Homo sapiens: one gene and its partners. The protein of the gene in region 1 interacts with the protein of each later gene in a pairwise test. Each region holds a gene or a part of one and is shown in the gene's direction. Other genes may lie near its edges.

Region 1 (7,000 bases):
CCTGTCTCTCCTAAAAATACAAAATTAGCTGGGCGTGGTGGCGTATGCCTGTAATCCCAGCTACTTGGAGGCTGAGGCAGGAGAATCGCTTGAACCTGGGAGGCGGAGTTTGTGGTGAGGCGAGATCACGCCATTGCACTCCAGCCTGGGCAACAAGAGTGAAACTCCATCTCCAAAAAAAAAAAGAATGTAAGAATGTAAGCATGAACATATAAGACTTGGAGATTAAATAGAATGCAGTGGTTTAGAGACAAACACCAGAGTTAGACTGCCTGGATTTTAATCCTGGTCTGACTTTTCATTTGTATGACATTCGGTAAATTGCTGAACATGGCTGTACCTCGATTTCCTCTTTGGTTAAATGGAAGCAGTAGTATCATCTTTGGAAGGTTGTTGTGAGGACTAAATGCATTATAACATCTAAGAAAAGCAAGCAGAGATACTCAGCACTGTAAGCCTCCTGATAGTGTGGCTGGCAAATCTAGAGCCATAAACCACGATTAAGGCCAGAAAATTTACTTTACTCTGAAGGATTTCATAAAGAATCTAGGGTTTTATTTTCTCTCTCTCTTTTTTTTTTTTTTTTTTTTGAGATGGAGTCTTGCTCTGTGGCCCAGGCTGGAGTGCAGTGGCACAATCTTGGCTTACCGCAACCTCCGCCTCCCGGGTTCAAGCGATTCTCCTGCCTCAGCCTCCTGAGTAGCTGGGATTACAGGTGCACACCACCACGCCTGGCTAATTTTTGTATTTTTAATAGAGACGGGGTTTCACCATGTTGGTCAGGCTGGTCTCCAACTCCTGACCTTGTGATCCACCCACCTCAGCCTCTCAAGGTGCTGGGGTTACAGGCTTTAGCCACTGCACCTACCCTCATGATTAGTAGATCACAGTGAATAAAATTAGCAGATCTGTTATACATTTTAATGAATGCTTATTAAACACATCTCTTTGGCAGTGCACCTCCTGATGAGCTGGGTTAGCGTAGGGGTGTGAGGGCCGGGCCAGCTGCTTTGATTGCTGCTTTGACAACAGTATTTTCCCTTGTCCCTCATTGATCCCGGTAAGAGGAAAGTTGTGCCTTTCCTTTGTAAAGTGGGAGGGGATACCCGGGAAAGGACGGCCAGATTGGTGCATAAGTCAGACTCCGAGCAGTTTCAGGCATGAGTGCACGTGAACAAATAGATAGAAAGTGATTCCTCAAGGCCTGGCGGTGCTCACGCATCCTTCTTGATACCTGCATGCTGAGAAGGTAGAGACGCTCACCAGGTGATTCTTCTGCCCTCTCAAGGCTGAGAGAGCTGCTCTGTGAGGGCACGGCGTGGTGCTTCAGGATGTGGCCTCTGCGTCATGTCTGCCTGGGCTTCGGTCCCATCGCGGGGGCTTCCTGGGTGTGCCTTATCAGTGTCGTCCTCTGTAGTGAGTTCAGGCATCACAGCAGCTCTCTTATGGAGTGGCTGTGGGAAGGAAATCCAAGAATTCATGGAAAGCCTCCAGTCCAGCGCCTCGTCCCTCATACACTTGCAGTCGGTAGGAGCCGCTTTAAGCTGATAACTTCCTCTGTGATTTGTGATTGGAACATCAGCATTGAAAATGTTATGTGCCATATGAAGTGCAAAAGAGAAGAATTTACTGGTAGGATGTCTTTGCAAAAAATCCAAGGTGTCCCTGGGAAGTGGCTGCAGAAGAGAATGTTTCAGCTTGTGGAAATAATGAGCCCGTGCTGGGCTTTGCCTCAAGTGCGGAACATCTGCCTTCACGTTCTTTCGAGCCTGCTGTATAGTTCCCATAGGGAACTATACCTTTGAAATAAGTGACTCCTGGGAGGGGTTGCAGTGCAGTCACATGTTGTTGAATGGACACGTGCTTGTTTCGCTCCACTGTCAGGGTGAGAGTTTCTTTTTTTCCAATTTCTCTTATATCCTCTGAAGAAGGTTGGTTTGTTGGATTTTTTTTTTTTTTTTTTTTGAGATGGAGTCTCGCTCTGTCACCCAGGCTGGAGTGCAGTGGCGTGATTTCGGCTCGCTGCAAGCTCTGCCTCCCAGGTTCACGCCATTCTCCTGCCTCAGCCTCCTGAGTAGCTGGGACTACAGGTGCCCGCCACCACGCCCGGCTAATTTTTTTTTTTGTATTTTTAGTAGAGACGGGGTTTCACCATGTTAGCCAGGATGGTGTCGATCTCCTGACCTCATGATCTGCCTGCTGCGGCCTACCAAAGTGCTGGGATTACAGGCATGAGCCACCGCGCCCGGCTGCTTTTTTTCCAGTTTCTCTAACCTCATATCTGAATGTTCTTAAAACTGTAGGAAAATTTAGTCTCTCTTCTGCCTATGATCGTTTCTGTGGCACTCTTCTGTCTGAACTTGACAAGCAGATACAGGTGAGAGAATGCAGGTGGCTAGCTAATTTATAATTGACTCTAACCCCAGATCAACCTGCTCTGATCAACCTTTCAGGCAAGGACCTACTTTCTGGCTCACATTTTCCCTTCCGTCAAAGGCGTTACCACTCGGATGTCTTCCTCAATGGTGTGTTCCTGCTCCTTTTGCCCTTCCAGTTGTCCTTCCCGAAACCCTGAAAAGGTGGCTTGGAGCTATTGCTGCTCCTCCATGCGTCACCTAATCGTCATCTCTGATCTGTATTTAGGTGATCATTTAACCTGTCTTACCTTTATTTACTTTTTAAAGGAACTTTTTATTTTGAAATAATTACAGGCTTGTAGGAATTCGCAAAATAATTCAGAGAGTCCTGAACGTCTTTCCCCCTGTTCTCCCAGGGTGGAGAGACATTACATTGCTGTGGCTTTTCGCAACCGGGAAGTTGACATTTGGTGTTACTGTCAACTGCACCACAAACCTTAGCCAGTTTTCATCATCTTTTTTTGGTCTCCATTCATTTGTACATGGGCGGATGGTTCTGTGCAATTTTATCACAAGTGCAGATTCATGCAGCAACCACAATGGTGAAGATACAGGATTGGCCACCACGGCACAGCAACCTCATGCCTCATCTTTGTATTTGTACCCACTGTACCTTCATCCTTGTCCCCTCGAAACCATTCATCTGTCCTCTCTCTCTGTAGTTTTGTCATGTCGAGAATGTTCTGTAGATGGAGTCATATGTTATGTTTGTAGATGGACCTCTGACTAAGCACAATGCCCTGGAGTTTGTTTTGGCCATTGCGGTGGCAGCGGCCGCCGCTCTTTACTGTGGAGTGGTATTCCACTGTAAGGATGGCCCAGGGGTTGCTCAGCTGTTCATGCATTCACACGTTGAAGGACTTGGGGGTGATTTTTGGTATTTTGCTATGATGAATAAGGCTAATGTGAACATTTGTGTCTAGGTTTTGTGTGAACACAAGTTTCCATTTCTTCCTCAAGGATTTTCTAAATTTCTGGAGGGCAGCCTGGCCTGATCCATAGTATGCAAATTAAGGAAATATTTCTAATCATTTGACTCCTAGAAAGAAAACAGAGATCCAGCAGAAGGGTGCTGTTGCAGAGCAAATGAATGAAAGAGTTCAATCATTAATGATAGGGCTCCTAAAATTTTCTTTCAAGACTATCCACTGTTAGGAGAATAAATGAGATTGGATTAGAAAGACTTTAATGTATTTTTTTCATCTTTTTTAAAGATTCCTCGGACAAGAAGGAAAAGAAATCTTTTAGCCTTGAGGAAAAGTCCAAAATCTCCAAAAACCGTGTTCACTATATGAAATTCACAAAAGGTAAGATTAAGCATTTCTTTACTTGTTATTGAAATCTACGTGTTTGTCCTGAGTTGCTTGAAGCATTTTAGCTCTGGGCCAATAGCGACTTCATGCTTTATGGACAGCTCCGACTGCATTGCTGTGAAACAGCGCTGGAGTCTTCGCATTGACTGTGGTGTGCCTGAGGATCTTGTTAGAATTCAGATCTAGGAGATCTGAGATGGGACCCAGATTAGGTTTTAGACTGTAAACAAGTCCTGTGGCTGAGCTAAAAAATGGAATCAGCTTATATTTAGAGGAAAACGGGACTTTATGTAGCTAGGTCAGAAAATAATTTTAATTTCTTGCCCAACATTTTTAGCTGCATGGTGTTTTTTCACAGCTGAAAGTTGGTGTTAAATAGCTTTTAATACGCCAGGTTAGAGAATTATGCTCTATATTGATACCTCCAGTGTGATAAAGCACACTCCCTGGTTGACCCTTTATTCCACGTAATTTCTCCATTTCACAGCGTAGGCATTCCATAGTCATTGCCAAGTCGGGTAAAAAGCCGTTTGAGACCTGGGTGAGAATTCCTATTCCTTCATCACCACCTCCCTAGCCCCTTCCCAGTATGTGAAATCATTTGTGCATGCGGTTGTTGTCTTCAGCCACTAGGTGGCGATCTTGCATTGGAAAGAAGCAATTTAACCTAATAGAACCAACTCCCCAGTTTGTCTGTAGAACAGTATCATGAATTAGAAACCTACTTATTACATAGTTTACATAAGAAGCGTGATGATGCTGCTGATGCTGTAATATCTAGTCTCTGTTGATGGTTCTTTCCTGGGAGGTTGGATGTGTTTCTACCTTGATATGCCAGGAACAGCACATCTCTGCTTTGGTCTTCTAGGAATGTCATGCGTATCAGGGCATTGCTGGGAAGCTCTTAACTTGTACAGCCAGCCTGGATAGCAGTGGGAGCTGGAATCCCCACTACTCTGAAGTATTGATGATGCTTTTCATTTAGGGCCAGGAGCCCAAAAGTGAGGGCTGGGTTTGGTTGAGGTGAGAGGCCGTGGCAGAGCTGAGTGGATTGGGGATTGTGTGCAGGGAGAGGCTGGGCCTCCCTTCCCTCTCCAGCAGCCGTGGCTCTTCCGCTTCCTCCGTTCTTTCTCTCACATGGAACTTTCTTGGCTGTCGCCCGTATCCCTTCTGACTGGGGTTCTTCTCCACCCCAGCGTGCTATGGAACAGAATACAGGCTTCCTTGGCCCTCAGTCCTTTTGAAGAGAGGGTACATGCTCACTTCATACCCAGTCCCTGAAATAGCATTTCTTCTTTCATTAGACTGTAGAGAAAAACTAGAGATCACAGAAGGTGCTGTTGCAGAGCAAATTAATAAAACTCAGTGACCTGTAACTTTCGGATGATGTGGCAGCCTTTTACGCTTTCACTTTTACAGGTAGAATCTTCTAATTTTCCTTTGATGCCAGACTGCATGCATGATTTCATCTGAAGCATTTGCTGAGGCTGGGATAAGCCTCTGTAATCTGCTTTAATCTAATGGATGCCGGGAGCATCTGCTTTCTATTTCTAGTTAAGCCACTCCTTTGCTGGGTGACCCTGTGAGACCGCTGAGTGCCTCGTGCCTTCGTTTTCTGTCTTCCAGCGAGGGTTCTGTATCTATTAGCCTTGCCTGGGGAGAAGAGGGAGTCAGTATGCAGAACAGAAGGATTCTCGGATCTATTGTCAGATTGCAGAGAAGAGCTGGAGTGGAGACGGGAAGGACATGCAGACTGGGCCTACGTAGGAAAGGGAGAAGGAAGCAAAAGTCCAGGGAGTGAGGAAAAGAATGGTTTATCAGCTAGCTTTCCAATCACGGTGCACACTTATTTTAAAGTTTCCTCTAGGGTGGACTATCTTAGATCACAGAAAATCTCACTCTGGCCATTACTCGCTCAGACAAGTCACCTACCCATTTCCCTTCAGACTCAGTTTCCTCTTTTGTAAAATGTGGATACATTTGTAAGTGACTATTAAGTTCTAAGGTAGGTTCTGTTTTATGATTTATTAGAAATGACCCATTTCATGGAACTTTTGCTTTTTCAGCATTGTAGATAATAAAGATTTTCGCCAGTGGGTATGCTGATAACGACTGTAACTCATTCACTTAGTTGATGAGGATGATTCATATTGCAACTCATGTATCGTCCAGGAAATCAAACAGGAAGATGCAATTGTACATAGCTTGGGAAGAGTGAAGATTAAAATTTTACTCTACTAAGATTACAGTAGCAAATAGTGTTGTAAAATTTGCTACTGCCTAAATATCAGCTGTATCATTATTTTTATTTTTATTTTGAGACAGGATCTCACTCTGTTGCCCAGGCTGGAGCACAGAGGAACAGTCTCAGCTCACTGCAGACTTGACCTTCTGGGCTCAAGTGATCGTCCTGCCTTAGCCTCCCAGCGTGCTGGGACTACAGGTGTGAGCCACTGCACCTGGTTGGTTATATCGTTTTAGTTCTGATATATAATTATTCCTTTCCCTGGTCCTGAGTTTATAATTCTAACTTGAGCTAATTTATTGTATAATTTTAAATGTCAGTTTTATCATACTTATTTAAAGGCTCAACTCCAGCTTGGTTTGTAGTTTTTTGTATTTTTTTTTAATGCAAAAGGTCTCTGCAGATAGAGGCTATATCTGCAGAGGGGAAAATGTCAATCGATACAAAGCCATTTCTGAGGTTTTCTGACTGGATGGTGAGACGTTGGCAGGAGAGCAGGAGAGCAGTGCTTCCTCCCCTCAGTTATGCAGTTGTTGGATGAAAGTTGCATAAACTGTAATTGTGCAGCTTTATCCTGGGAATCTTGCAGACTTCTTAATCCTTTTGAGAGTTTGGGCTATTTTATATGCTACTGAAACAAGGAAACTACATGCCTAACGCATGTGCAGGTGCTCGGCTTCCTGGTCGGGAAATACAGAATTGGTATTCACAGCGCAGTCAGCCCCGCCCCTCAGTTGCACACTGGTAGTGAGGAGCATTCAATCTCCTCTTCTGATTCTTTTGACATTTAAATAAATATCAGGTAGCACCTGGTAGGTCTGACCTGTGTCACTCACACTGACTCTTTCCACTTTCCTGGTTTATGGTGTCTTTTAGTGGAGTTACCCTTATCTTCTGCCCTCGGTTGACTGCCAGTTCTGTGTGTTTGCCATTTAAAAAGATAAAAATAAAAGTATGTCATTTTATTTGTCCTTCTTGATTGAATAATGCAAATGAATTTTCTAAACTATTGAAGCTACCTACAT
Region 2 (7,000 bases), on another chromosome or scaffold:
CTGCTCAAAGACTCACAGTCGCCCAACACAGCCACTCAGCGCATCGTGCAGGATGTATCCTTCCTTCCTTCCGGGGCTGGGGGAGCCGGGTAGATGCGTGCAGTTTCCAAAGGCCAGAGAGAGAAAGAGAGGGACTGACTCCCCTAGTCCCCAGATTTTTTCTGCTGTGCGGAGGATCTGCCCTGGACAGAGAAGGATTACAATTCCTGGGTCCCATTTCCAGAGCTGCGGGGATTGTTATAGAAAATGATGAAAATTCCTAATGTTCATCGAACGCTAGCATCTACTCCATTAACTATTAAAGTAGGCCCTGGCCCAACGGGGTGGCTCATGCCTGTAATCGGAGCACTTTGGTAGGCCGAAGCAGGTAGATCGCTTGGGCCCAGGAGTTTGAGACCAGCCTGGGCAACATAGGGAGACCCCATCTCTACAAAAAATACAAAAAATAGCTAGGTGTGGTGGCATGCACATGTAGTCCCAGCTACTTGGGAGGATGAGGTGGGAGGATGGCTAGAGCCCAGGAGGTAGAGGTTGTGGTGAGCTGAGATTGTGCCACTGTACTCCAGCCACCCTGGGCGACAGAGCCAGACCCTGTCTCAAAGAAAAGATATATAGGCCAGGCGCGGTGGTTCACGCCTGCAATCCCAGCACTTTGGGAGGCCGAGGCGGACGGATCACCTGAGGTCAGGAGTTTTGAGACCAGCCTGGCCAACATGGAGAAACCCTGTCTCTACTAAAAATACAAAAATTAAGCCAGGTGTGGTGGCAGAAGCCTGTAATCTCAGCTAATTGGGAGGCTGAGGCAGGAGAATCGCTTGAACCTGGGAGGCGGAGGTTGCAGTGAGCGGAGATCGTGCCACTGCACTCCAGCCTAAGTGACAGAGTGAGACTCTGTCTGAAAATAAATAAATAAATATTTAAACCATGAGCATGACTCACCCCAAAATTTGGATTCCCTCTTTTAAAAAAAAAAAAAAAGTCTTCATGGCCTGTTAGTGGGGATCGCTGACTAGTAGCTGCCACTTTAAGAGGAGTGGGATTCTCCTTCCCTCTCCTGCTCTGGCTGGGTCTTCAGGAGTGGATGGGAAACTCAGACATTTCCACCCAACTCCTTGTATGATTTTTTTTTTTTTCAAGATGGAGTCTTGCTCTGTCGCCCAGACTGGAATGCAGAGGCGCAATCTCGGCTCACTGCAACCTTCACCTGCTGGGTTCAAGCGATTCCCCTGCGTCAGCCTCCCAAGTAGTTGGGAATAGAGGCACGCACACATCATGCCCGGATAATTTTTTTGTATGTTTAGTAGAGATGGGGTTTCACCACGCTGGCCAGGCTAGTCTCGAACTCCTGACCTTGTGATCCACCCGCCTTGACCTCCCAAAAAGTGCTGGGATTACAGGCGTGAGCCACCGCGCCCGGCCCCTTATATGAATTTGACGTGTCTGAGGTGCTCTGTGTCATTGTGGGCTTATTAGGGAGCGGGATCCCCCAGGAGCTGGCAGCCTGGTCCCAGTGGTCAGAGATAGTGTCAGGTACATAATGAGGGGACCTGGCTGGGGGAAGGCCTCTGTCTTCCAAGTCCCTTAACAGCCTGGCAGAAACTCAAACAACTCAATCAGTTTCCTGACTTCAACAACTACCTGATTTTCGTCCTGACCAGACTCAAGTCAGAAGGTACGCCCTCTGCTCCCTTCCATGCGATCGGGACCCTGCTTTCTCCCCCTGGGCCCCTGAACCTCAGCCTTCCTCCTCCCAGATGAGCCAACGCGCTCTCTCAGTGGCCTCATCCTCAAGAACAACGTGAAGGCACACTATCAGAGCTTCCCACCCCCTGTGGCAGACTTCATCAAACAGGAGTGTCTCAACAACATTGGCGATGCCTCCTCGCTCATCCGAGCCACCATTGGTGAGAGGGGCAGCGGGGGTTGGCCTCTGAGGACACACTGAACTCTCACTTCTCAGCATGTTAAGTGTAGTGCTTCATGGAATGCTCTGGCACCCTCTATGGTAGTACTATTACTATTGCCATTTGATAGATGAGGAAGCTGAGGCGCTGAGCTATTAAGGGACCTGTCTGGGTAAGCAGCAGAAGTCAGAAACAGCTGAGGCAGTGCAGGGCCACGCTCTGGAACCACTCCCTCCTGAAACAGTCCTTCTTGGCTCTGAGACAGTCATGCAACATCTAGAATTTTGTGTTCGGCCTTGGGCTGAGTGCTAAGGGTATAGCAGTTAAAATAATGCAGGTATTCATGTTTCAGGTGCAACGGAATTAGGTTTTCAGCAGAGCCTTTTCTGACTCTTGGAAGGTGGCCTGAGGAAGTTACAGAAAGATGACTAAGAATAGGCTCACGCCTGTAATCCCAGCAACTTTGGGAGGTCAGGGTAGGCAAATCACCAGAGGTTGAGTTCAATACCAGCCTGGCCAACATGGTGAAACCCCGTCTCTACTTAAAATACAAAAAACTTAGCTGGCCAGGCATGGTGGCTCACACCTGTAATCCCAGCATTTTGGGAGGCTGAGGTGGGCGGATCACAAGGTCAGGAAATCAAGACCATCCTGGCCAATGTGGTGAAACCCCATCTCTACTAAAAATAGAAAAAATTAGCTGGGCGTGGTGGCACTCGCCTGTGGTCCCAGCTACTCGGGAGGCTGAGGCAGGAGAATCACTTGAACCCAGGAGTTGGAGGTTACAGTGAGGCGAGATGGCGCCACTGCACTCCAGCCTGGCAATACAACGAGACTCCATCTCAAAAAAAAAAAAATTAGCTGGGCGTGGTGGTGAACATCTATAATCCCAGCTACTCAGGAGGCTGAGGCAGGAGAATTGCTTGAACCCAGGAGGCAGAGGTTGCAGTGAGCCGAGATTGCGGCACTACACTCCAGCCTGGGCAACAGAGCAAGACTCCATCTCAAAAAAAACTAAATAAAATAAAAACAAAAAAAATGACTTCTGGCTGGGTGTGGTAACTCACGCCTATAGTCCTAGCACTTTGGGAGGCCAAGGCAGGCGGATCACTTGAGATCAGGAGTTGGAGACTAGCCTGGCCTACATGGTGAAATTCCGTTTCTACTGAAAATACAAAAAATTACTTGGGAATTACAGCTGGTGGGCACCTGTAATCCCAGCTACTCGAGAGGCTGAGGCAGGAGAATTGCTTGAGCCCGGGAGGCAGAGGTTGCAGTAAGCCAAGATAATGCCACTGTACTCTATCCTGGGCAACAGACTGAGATTCCATCTCAAAAATAAAAAGTAACTTTTAGTCCTGCAAAAACCCCCTCCCAGGCCAGTAGTAGGATGTGGACTTCCTGAGCTCATTCTATGTGCCAGGCTCTTTGCTAAGTCATTGAAACTTACTGATCCAGGCTGAGCACAGTGGCTCACGCCTCTAATCCCAGCACCTTGGGAGGCTGAGGCAGGTGGATCACCTGAGGTCAGGAGTTCGAGACCAGCCTGGCCAACATGGTGAAACTCTATCTCTACTAAAAATACAAAAATTTGCTGAGTGTGGCAGCGGGCACCTGTAATCCCAGCTGCTTCAGAGGCTGAGGCAGGGGAATTACCTGAACTCGGGAGGTGGAGGTTGCAGTGAGCCAAGATTGTGCCACTGCACTCCAGCCTGGACTACAGAGTGAGACTCCATCTCAAAAAAAAAAAAAAAAAAAAAGAGAGAAAAAGAAACCTACTGATAACCTTAGTTAGGAGGCTGGTTTTCTTTATCTCTTCTGAGGGCTGGAAGCACTGAGGCACACAGAATGAGGGGGTGTGGCTAAAGTTCCACAATCCTCACTGTGTACCTACCCATTGCAGGGAGCACCTTTCTCTCGTTGAGTTTCCACCCTTGGGAAACACTGCCATCTCATGGCAGCAAATACCATCTCTGCACTTAACAGAACCCATATCCAGCTCTGTCACCAGATATGTGCACTGTCCTGGCACCTCAGATGCCTGCTGTATGTAACTCCTGGATATCTAATAGGCAGTACAAGCATCCCTGCCACCTTCCTGCCCTTACCTCCTTTCCCTCTCTCATCATGCCTGTCCTTACGCCAGGCCTTTGCACCATAGAGTCCCCTGCCTCAGATGCCCTTTCCCCAGAAACCTGGATGATTCCTCCCTCGCCTCCTTCACCTCCTTCAGGCCTTGGCTCAGATATCAAGATGTCACCTCAACGAGGCCTGCTCTGGCCACCCAATTTAAAGTTGCTACCTTCACCTACAGCCCTTTCTCACCATCTTTTCTGCTGTATTTCCCCCCTTAGTCCTTGGCATGTGGCCCCTCCCAGTTGTTTGTTTTTGTTTTGTTTGTTTTTGAAATGGAGTCTTGCTCCATCCCAGGCTGGAGTGCTGTGGCGCGATCTCTGCTCACTGCAACCTCTGCCTCCCAGGTTCAAGTGATTCTCCTGCCTCGGCCTCCCAAGTAGCTGGGATTACTGGTGCCCCCCACCACACCCAGCTAATTTTTGTATTTTTAGTAGAGATGGGGTTTCACCATGTTGGCCAGGCTGGTTTCGAACTCCTGACCTCAAGTGATCCACCCACCTCGGTCCCCCAAAGTGCTGGGATTACAGGCATGAGCCACCCATGCACGGCCCCTCCCAGTTTTTTTTGCTAATTTATCTTTACTTCATAGCTTGCTTCCAGCTCCCAAGGGTGAGGATTTTGTGTTTTGCTCTGTGCTGTGCCTCAGGGCCTGGAACAGAGTTGACTCACAGTAAGGCTCAGGGTGCCTACTGAGTCAAGGAGTACCCTTCTACCTATGTCAAGGCCAGGAGCGGTGGCTCACGCCTGTAATCTCAGTGCTTTTGGAGGCCAAGGCAGGAGGATTGCTTGAGGCCAGGAGTTTTAGGCCAGCCTGGGCAACATAGTGAGATCCCATCTCTACAAACAATTTTAAAAATTAGTTGGGCGTGGTGGCATGTGCCTGCAGTCCCAGCTACTTAGGAGGCTGAGGCAGGAAGATGGCTTGAGGCCAGGAGTTTGAGGCTGCTGTGGACTATTGATTGTGCCACAGCAGTCCAGCCTGGGCAACAGAGCTAATTCTATCTCTTACAAAGAAAAAAAAAAGGAGGGGGGATGTAGAGGGCGTACATGGGCTAGGGAACAGAAAGGCAGCACTGGGGGTGTCCAGTGGGAGGGGGAGGTGCTAGGCAGCCCCTGCCCAGCCTCAGGCAGCGTCCTTTCCCGGCCGCCCCAGGCATTCTCATCACCACCATCGCTTCCAAGGGTGAGCTGCAGATGTGGCCCGAGCTGCTGCCCCAGCTCTGCAACCTGCTTAACTCGGAGGATTACAACACTTGTGAGGTAGGCAAGAAGCCATGGATGGCCAGAGCGAGTACTGGGGGGCTGGGACCACCACCCACCACCCACGTTTGTCTCTCTGCCCCTCTGCACTCAGGGAGCCTTTGGAGCCCTGCAGAAGATCTGTGAAGACTCATCAGAGCTTCTGGACAGTGACGCCCTCAACAGGCCCCTCAACATCATGATCCCCAAGTTCCTGCAGTTCTTCAAGCACTGCAGTCCCAAGATCCGGTGGGTGCAGCTCCCTGGGGGCTTCCAGGGAGCCTGGAGTGGGCAGGGTCAGGGTGACCCACGTGTCTGCTCCCCGCCAGGTCCCACGCCATCGCCTGCGTGAACCAGTTCATCATGGACCGGGCCCAGGCGCTGATGGACAATATTGACACCTTCATCGAGGTGGGCCGCTGGGCTGGGGGTGGGCAGGGCGAGGACTGAGGGCCCCTACAACTGACCCTGTTCCTCCCTGCAGCACCTATTTGCCCTGGCTGTGGATGATGACCCCGAGGTGCGGAAGAATGTGTGCCGTGCCCTGGTGATGCTTCTGGAAGTGCGGATTGACAGGCTCATCCCCCACATGCACAGCATCATCCAGGTGTGCATGGTCAAGGCCAGCCCAGGCGGGCAGGCAGGGGGCCGGTGGCAGGGGTCAGGGAGCCACCCCCAGCCAGGCCAGGCCTCAGCTTCTCCCCCCTACCACAGTACATGCTGCAGAGGACCCAGGACCATGATGAGAACGTTGCCCTTGAGGCCTGTGAGTTCTGGCTGACGCTGGCCGAGCAGCCCATCTGCAAGGAAGTCCTGGCCTCCCATCTGGTCCAGTGAGTGCTGCTGCTGCCCACTGTCCTACCCCAGCTTCGACCCCTTGCTATGCCTCTGCCTTCCCTTCTGGTCACCTGCTGTGCTTCTCTCAGTCCACATCCTTGTCAGTTTACATTCAGTATATATTTATGTGTAAGTGGTAAGAATGCCACTTTTTGAAGACTTCAAAATTAGGTAACTGATAGGTGGAAAGAAATGAAAAATCAATGGCCACATGTGGTGGCTGACACCTGTAATCCTAGCACTTTGGGAGGCCGAGGCGGGCAGATCACAAGGTCAGAAGATCGAGACCAGCCTGGCTAACACGGTGAAACCCCATTTCTACTAAAAATATAAAAAAATAGCTGGGCGTGGTGGCAGGCGCCTGTAGTCCCAGCTGCTTGGGAGGGTGAGGCAGGAGAATTGCTTGAACCCAGGAGGCTGAGGTTGTAGTGAGCCAAGGTCGTGCCACTGCACTCCAGCCTGGGTGACAGAGCAAAACTCCGTCTCAAAAAAAAAAAAAAAAGAAATGAAAAATCAACAAAGGCTTCAGGGGTATGGCTGTATCCAGGAGCTCAAAGGATGTGAAAGGCATCTTTGTGGTCTCAGATCTGCTTCCCTTGTGTTGGCTTCATTCTTAGGCACAACCTTCCCTCTGGGTAGTGCTGTAGCCTTCTGTGCCCTTCCAGCTTAGGAACTTCAGAGTAAAGAAATTTTCGACCAGTGTTTCCAACAAAAGTCCTAAAACTGACCCTCCTTGACAAACTTGGATTGCTTGCCTCTCTCCAAATCATTTTTTTCTTTTTTATTTTGAGACAAGGTTTTGCTCTGTCATCCACGCTGGAGTGGAGTGTCAAAATCATGGCTCACTGCAGCCTTGACCTCCCAGCTGAAGCAATCCTCCTACC
Region 3 (7,080 bases), on another chromosome or scaffold:
TCCATATGACACAGTTCGCCAACCCCTGATCTAAGCCATACAATTCATTCAAGGCCTATCTCAAGTACTTTTTCCTGTGTGAACACTTTGAAGGCCATTTCAGGTCACAGGGATCTCTCCTTATTCTGAAGTCAAGAAGTTTAATATGTGGCCAATTTAAAATGTCCCTATAGAGCTGGGCATGGTGGCTCACGCCTGTAATCCCAGCACTTTGGGAGGCCAAGGTAGGTGGATCACTTGAGGTCAGGAGTTTGAGACCTGCCTGGCCAACATGGTGAAAACCCGTCTCTACTAAAAATACAAAAATGACCAGGGCGTGGTGGCAGGTGCCTGTAATCCCAGCTACTCGGGAGGCTGAGGCAAAAGAATTGCTTGAACCCAGGAGGCGGAGGTTGCAGTAAGCCGAGATCAAGCCATTGCACTCCAGCCTGGGCGACAAGAGTGAAACTCCATCTCAAAAAATAAAAATAAAAATAAAAATAAAAAATAAAAATGTCCATACACTACTTTGTAGAGTCCCTTGTACTGTTGTAATATACAGATTAACTGTTTTACTGTGATTGCTTTAGCCTCTCTGGGACTCATTTACTGATCTAAAATTAAGGATCCAGGCGTAGAAGACTGCCAAATTTAAATAATCTATGATTTAACTCTTAAATGTCATTTATAAATTTATAACAAACTTAGAAACAGTGTGTTACATATTTCTGTATTGCCATGGAACCAAAAAAAGTACCTTGCATCTAAGAGTGGTTCAATCAATAAACTTACTTGCATATTTTTGAAGCAGAAGGGCCAGTGACTACACCATAGTAATTAAAAGACACAGGAGCTGTGGCTTTTAATGGGTTCCTATGAAACCAATGGGTCATTTTCTCCAGATGTTTTCTATAGACAAAAAAGTAAAAAATATACAAAAATTAAATATAAAATATTTAATAAACAAGGTAAATAGCATAACAATTTATTTCAATAGTATAAAAATTTAATTCGAAAATTAGCCTGGCTAAATTTTGTTATTTTTTTAGTAGAGACGGGGTTTCACCATGTTGGCCAGGCTGGTCTCAAACTCTTGACCTCAAGTGATCCACCCGCCTTGGCCTCCCAAAGTGTTGGGATTACAGGCGTGAGCCACCGCGCCCGGCCTCAGGTTATGTTTTGTCTATTTATGGTGGTCTATGTTCAGATCAGGCCTATAAAAAAAAGCAGAAGAGCATTTGAAAATCTGCCCACAATAACTTCAATGTTAACATACATATATAGGAGCAGTAATGTTTAAACTGTAATATACATAAAAATCACCTGGGGGTGGGTGGTTTTGTCCAATGCAGGCTCTAATTCAATAGCCTGGGGCAGGACCTGAGATGCTGATGCTGCTGGTCCCCAGACACTTTTGAATAGCAAAGTACTAGATTTTGGTTGGACAACTGCAAGTAAAAAGGGCACAGGACCAGATGAACGTAATTTCCAAAACGGGTTCAAATGGTAACCCTGATTATATCGCTAAGGCTACTTGTAATACGTTTTAAGTTAACTGCTGTATTTCCGACATATTGCTGACAACAGTGGATTGGTTATAGCATGTGTTCTACAATAAAATGTACTTTCCAAAAAATACCTAAAGAATATTTTTAAAATAAAAATGTAATACAATACTTGATCAATAAATTCTATTATAAAATGAAAACATTGGGCTGGGCATGGTGGCTCATGCCTGTAATCTCAGCAGTTTGGAAGGCCGAGGTGGGTGGATCGCTTGAGCTCAGGAATTTGAGACTAGCTTGGGCAACATGGTGAGACCCGGTCTCTACAAAAATCAGCCGGGGATGGTAGCCACGCCTGTGGTTCTAGCTACTGGGAAGACTGAGGAGGGAGGATCCCCTGAGTCCAGGAGACGTAGGCTGCAGTGAGCCCTGATCTCCCCATGGCACTCCAGCCTGGGCGACAGGGCAAGATCCTATCTCAAAAAAGGAAAAAGGAAAAAAAAAACAAAAAACAAAAACTTGGAACACCACCTAAGTGAGATGCCAACTTAAAAAAAAAATTAAGTTCCATGCCTTCTACTTAAAAAAAAAAAAACGCGCGGTGGCTCACGCCTGTAATCCCAGCACTTTGGGAGGCCGAGGCGGGCAGATCACAAGGTCAGGAGATCGAGACCATCCTGGCTAACACGGTGACTCTACTAAAAGTACAAAAAAAAAATTAGCCGGGCATGGTGGCGGTCGCCTGTAGTCCCAGCTACTTGGGAGGCTGAGGCAGGAGAACCCAGGAGGCGGAGCTTGCAGTGAGCCGAGATGGCACCACTGCACTCCAGCCTGGGCGACAGAGGGAGACTCCGTCTCAAAAAAAAAAAAAAAAAAAAGCAGCATGTCTTGTCTAAATGTCCTTGGGTAGGTAGTGCAGCAGATAATAAGGAGAAAGCCCAGGCGAAGACCTAAACATGGCAATTAGATTCCAGGAAGTAACTGAGAAAAAATTCTGATAAGGTTCATTTAATTTGAAGGCACTAAAAAATTCTGACAATCGACTTTTCCTAGTATTAGAAAATAATGGTGGCTGTACAGTGTATGAAATGCCTACATTAAGTGCTTCCTTTATGCTATTTATTCATGACAAAGCTGGTTTTGAGGAGCACCACATACTTAATGAATAGAGAATACAGTGTGTACCCAACGAAAAACTGAGCAGGTTTATTTAGGACTCAAAACATTTAACGAGTTATTTCAGAAAATATCATCTTCTACACATCTTCCATATAAATTCCGATAGCCTAATACAGCATCTATGTGCCTACAAATAATATCACACTCAGCACTTGAGGCTGCGAAATCTTCCACAAATACTTCTTTTAATGCGGCCTCCTACTTCCTGGATGAAAATGTCTGAAGTTTTGCGAATCTTTACTTCAGGAAAGAAGAGGGTTTCTGCCCCTGCCCCATCTTCTCCCCTTCTGCGACCCGGCGGTCTTCAGTTTTCGGGAGTTCCTAGGGTGGGATAGAAGAACGACACACCCACCCGCAGGGACAAGGGTGCCTTTAGAGCCACCAATACAACATTCGGATCGAAGCTGTAAGCTAACACACTTCCACAAGAGGACTCCCGCTCCTAACAAGGGACCCCCACCCCGGAAGCCCCGAGTCCCCAGAGGAACCTACCTGAGCGCCGCCCCCGAGCTCTGAGCGCCCACTTCCTGTTTACCACCCAGCCTCTTCCTCCCGTGCCCAGTCCCGTTCGAGGCAGCGGGCGGCGACCGTGCGCACGCGCCAACACTTGAGTTCCCCTCTTTCCAAACAGGCATTTTTGTGGAAAGCCGATACTGTCAACCCGGGAGAGGTGGCCAGACAACGGCCGAACGAACCCCAGTTTAGCTTGTATTATAAGCTCTCCAATGACCAATGGAGATGCGGGGCAAGGGGATTCAGCGGATCTAGCTGTTAATGCCACTGATTTGTGGTGACCAATATGGATTTTCTTTCTGTCGTTTGTTTCAAGGCACTAGAAGGAGACTTTTGGTCCACTGTCCAGGGGTCTATGGAGACTAATGTAAAAGGGGGTGATCCTATTGCTTGAGACTCCGGGGAAGTAGCGGGGGATATTACTGAGAAACACCCATCCTCTGACATACTTACCAAATTTCTCAGAGTCGGTTCAGCAGTTCTTCTAAGGGAAGAAGGGCAATATATCGGAGTCCACAAGCGAGAAAAAGAGGGAGTCGGAGAACCGAGACTACAGAACCAGGGTGACGGAAAACCAGGACGGCGCCAAGCCGGAGTCACGTGACCCGGCGGCCATGATAGCTACCGAGGCGGTAGTGCGCGCAGCTCAGGGGCGGGTATTGCCGCGGCGTTGCAGTCCCCTCAAAACGCTTCGTTCATCATCCCTTTCTAACTTCTCCCTCGGCCTTCCTTTTGAGCTATGGTCTTTTTCCCAGACAGGAAGAGAAGAGTTGCCCCTACCTCCGGAGCCGAGGGAGAATGCCGCAATAGCGATGGCGGCCCTCGGCGCAGTGGGGCGGCCTCAACCTAACCCGGGGCGGGGCCTCGGGGGCGGGGTCTCGGCGGGGCGGTCGCTTTGGAGCCGCAAAGTTTGGCTGTGGCGGCAAATGGGCTTGGGCGGCTCCTCGGCGGGTGGCGGTGGTGGCCGTAGCGGTTCCTCCTGGCCCTGTTAATGTCGGGGCCAGGCCGGGGGAGGATGGCGCCCTAGAACCCGGCCTTGCTGGGGTAGGGGCGGGAGGGGACGGGGTGGGGACCGGCCATGTCGGAGGTGACCCGGAGTCTGCTGCAGCGCTGGGGCGCCAGTTTTAGGAGAGGCGCCGACTTCGACTCTTGGGGCCAGCTGGTGGAGGCGATAGACGAGTATCAGATGTGAGTGACTAACCGCGGGAGCAGGCCAGACCGGCTCCAGTCGTGCGCCTCTCCCTTGTTTCTGTCGGTGTCTCTCATCACCGTATCTGCAGCCAAGGCTTCTCAGGGTGGGGCTCCGCAGGCACTGGGGCTGAGATCCCTCGCCACCAGCCCCAGCGAGGCTGCTCTAGGGACAACGGCTCCGCTCTCTGGGGTGACTCGCCTTCTTCCCTCTCCGCCTCCGCAGGGACAGTTCCATTCAACAGGTAGCCCTTCTTTCCTGGGGCGCAGGCCCCAGCAGGCTATCTGCTTAGTTCCTTTCCACCGTCTCGCGGGTCCCCCACTTGGCAGTCAGTTTCCTTTCCTCCTCCTCTCCCAGGTTGCTTTTCCTCGATTTCCTTTTGAAATTCTCTGAGGAATACTTGTGTGTTCTCCGCCCACGTTCCAAGGATGAGTGGCCTTGCTCTGTGTGTGTCTTCCTTCTTCCATGCGTAGGAAAGGAGGGAACTGTTTGCGATTGAGGGGATGGGGGGGAGCCCAGGAAGCAACGAGGGCCAGGGATACCTCTTCTGCCAAAAGAAGGGTCTCCTCTCGCGCTCCTTCTCCACCCCTCTTTCTGGTGAGCCGTGTTTTCAGAATTCCACCTCGATTTCGTTTCGGTTTCTGGGACTGTTATTTGGTAGGCTGTGAGTCCCACCCACCCCCTCGCTCGGTTGCCTTGGGTGGAGTCCGCGCAGGATGTGAACCGAAGAGAGCAAAATGTGAATTAATGGACCACGCACAGGAGCTCCACGCCCTCCTTGGATCCCTCCTCCTTTTCCTGTATATAATGTATAGCCGCAGGGTACAAGTGAGTACCAGTTTCCTTGAGCAACCTAAGACCAATTTCTTGCCCTTTCTGGTTTCCACAGAAAACTTCAGGGTTGTCTTAAAAAATAAAAGACAAGATTTATATACACATAAAACCTTGCTTAGGTTTTTGCACATTTTACTGAACTTAAGAACTGTCTGCCAAAATGCTATTGTTTGCAAACTCGCCATTAATTATTCTCTGTTTAAAGCAAGTTATTGTTTGAGATTTCACTGAGTATGAAACCACGTATGAGTAGAATACCCCCGGCCTCCCCCACCCCCCATCCGCCCCCGACACACAACGATTTCTGGCAAGAATATACGCTTGGTACTTGGAAGATCTAAACTCTTATCGTCTCCCCGCAATAGTTATTTGTTTTTATCTATTAAGATAATTTAAATGTGTAGGTACTGACTTTGAATCGCCTGTAGCTTCAAAAAGCTCTGACAAAAACCCGTGCTCTGAGCCATTTTGCGATGTGTAACAACTACTAGCATTTGTTTTGCACTTTCACATGATTTCATTTGCTCTTGCAATAACCCAGTGAGAATATAATTATTCTCATTTTACGAAATGAGGAAAACTGAAGCTCAGGTTAAACAGATTACTCAGGTCACAAGCTGATACCACTGAAATCTGGGATTTAAAAAAGAAAATCCAAATCCTGTCTCTACTACAGAGTGCTTAAGATGTACTGAGAGAGTAATTCTGTAAGTGAATTAGACAAATGATAAGATTTTCTTTATTACTGGAGAACACACCCTTCCATACTGTAGCCAATTAGTAAGCACCTATGTATACCCATTCTGTATATTAACTAATATTGCATAGTTTGAAATAGAAAGCCATCTCTTACTTGTGAGGTGGTGAGACCTAGCAGCTGTTGACACTGGGCAGCCGACTTCACAATGGAAAGTGAAGAATACCATGTCCAATTGAAATTACAAAGGAAAATTGAATATGCAAGCTGTTTAGTTTGAATTTCTAGGAACATGAAGGTGAGGGTGATAGGCATGTGCAGATCCATTGTTGGACCTCAGTACTAACCATTGAACTTCATGATTCTAGTAGTCCTCAAATTATAAAAACTGCCAGGGTCAAATTTCAGTGAAAACATGTAATGATTGGCTTAAATTCTGTAAACATGTAGGCTACATATAAAATGAGGTCAAGAGTTTAAAATTACCTAATATATCCAGAAATGAATGCAAATTATCTTTTTCATTTGAAATATCTGGGAGGAAAGGCTGCAGCAAAATAGACCAATTGGGGGCCACTATAATGATGTAAACAAGAATTGACAGGATTTAGTTACTGACTGGATGTCGAGGGTGTAGAAGGAGGAAGAGTCTAGGATCGTTGGGATTTCTAATTGGGTAGGCAGCAATCTTATCGCCATACAACACACAGGAGCTGCTTTATGCGAGGGATGTAGGGGGAGAGATAGTGCATATCTGTATTCTCATAATGTAATAATACTGTAGCTTAAACAATTTCATGACTCAACAACTAAGGGTTAGGGATACAAAGATGAATAAAATTTGATTTCTGCCCTCAAAGCACTGAGAAGCCAATGGAAGATTTTAGAGTAACTGGGTGTTGCAATTACGGAAGTATGAAAAGAGTAAGTGCTCCCACATTCCTTGCTATTTCCTGGAACATAGTTCTGCCTTAGGGCTCTCGTATTTTTTTTCTGGGGCACTTTTCCCCCCATTATCTGTTTGGGTCACTTTGTCACCTCCTTCAGGTCTTTGTTCAAATATCCTCAGTGAGGCTGTCTCTGGCCACCCTGTTTAAAATTGCAAAGTCTCTTGTCCAACCCCACTGCCTCTATCTCAGTTTCACACCTCCTGCTCCCCATCCTGCTTCATTTTTTTCATTTTT

What was found. The genes of interacting proteins can lie anywhere in the genome.
Region 2: the proteins of PINX1 (region 1) and TNPO2 interact in binary tests that used the Homo sapiens proteins (3 or more experiments, as listed by UniProt).
Region 3: the proteins of PINX1 (region 1) and AIDA interact in binary tests that used the Homo sapiens proteins (3 or more experiments, as listed by UniProt).

Annotation. Positions count from the first base shown.
Region 1 is NC_000008.11:10,822,876-10,829,875, reverse strand, and holds part of PINX1 (PIN2/TERF1-interacting telomerase inhibitor 1), read left to right. Parts: intron 1-3,631; coding exon 3,632-3,724; intron 3,725-4,432; exon of another isoform or gene 4,433-4,503; intron 4,504-7,000. UniProt on the Homo sapiens protein: Microtubule-binding protein essential for faithful chromosome segregation. Mediates TRF1 and TERT accumulation in nucleolus and enhances TRF1 binding to telomeres. Inhibits telomerase activity. May inhibit cell proliferation and act as tumor suppressor.
Region 2 is NC_000019.10:12,713,933-12,720,932, reverse strand, and holds part of TNPO2 (transportin-2), read left to right. Parts: coding exon 1-54; intron 55-1,596; coding exon 1,597-1,672; intron 1,673-1,754; coding exon 1,755-1,904; intron 1,905-5,193; coding exon 5,194-5,300; intron 5,301-5,394; coding exon 5,395-5,528; intron 5,529-5,608; coding exon 5,609-5,690; intron 5,691-5,763; coding exon 5,764-5,886; intron 5,887-5,993; coding exon 5,994-6,112; intron 6,113-7,000. UniProt on the Homo sapiens protein: Probably functions in nuclear protein import as nuclear transport receptor. Serves as receptor for nuclear localization signals (NLS) in cargo substrates.
Region 3 is NC_000001.11:222,709,492-222,716,571, reverse strand, and holds the start of AIDA (axin interactor, dorsalization-associated protein), read left to right. Parts: upstream 1-4,080; 5' UTR 4,081-4,254; coding exon 4,255-4,364; intron 4,365-7,080. Other genes in the region: BRO1 domain-containing protein BROX, read right to left, coding at 772-888, 2,905-2,939. UniProt on the Homo sapiens protein: Acts as a ventralizing factor during embryogenesis. Inhibits axin-mediated JNK activation by binding axin and disrupting axin homodimerization. This in turn antagonizes a Wnt/beta-catenin-independent dorsalization pathway activated by AXIN/JNK-signaling.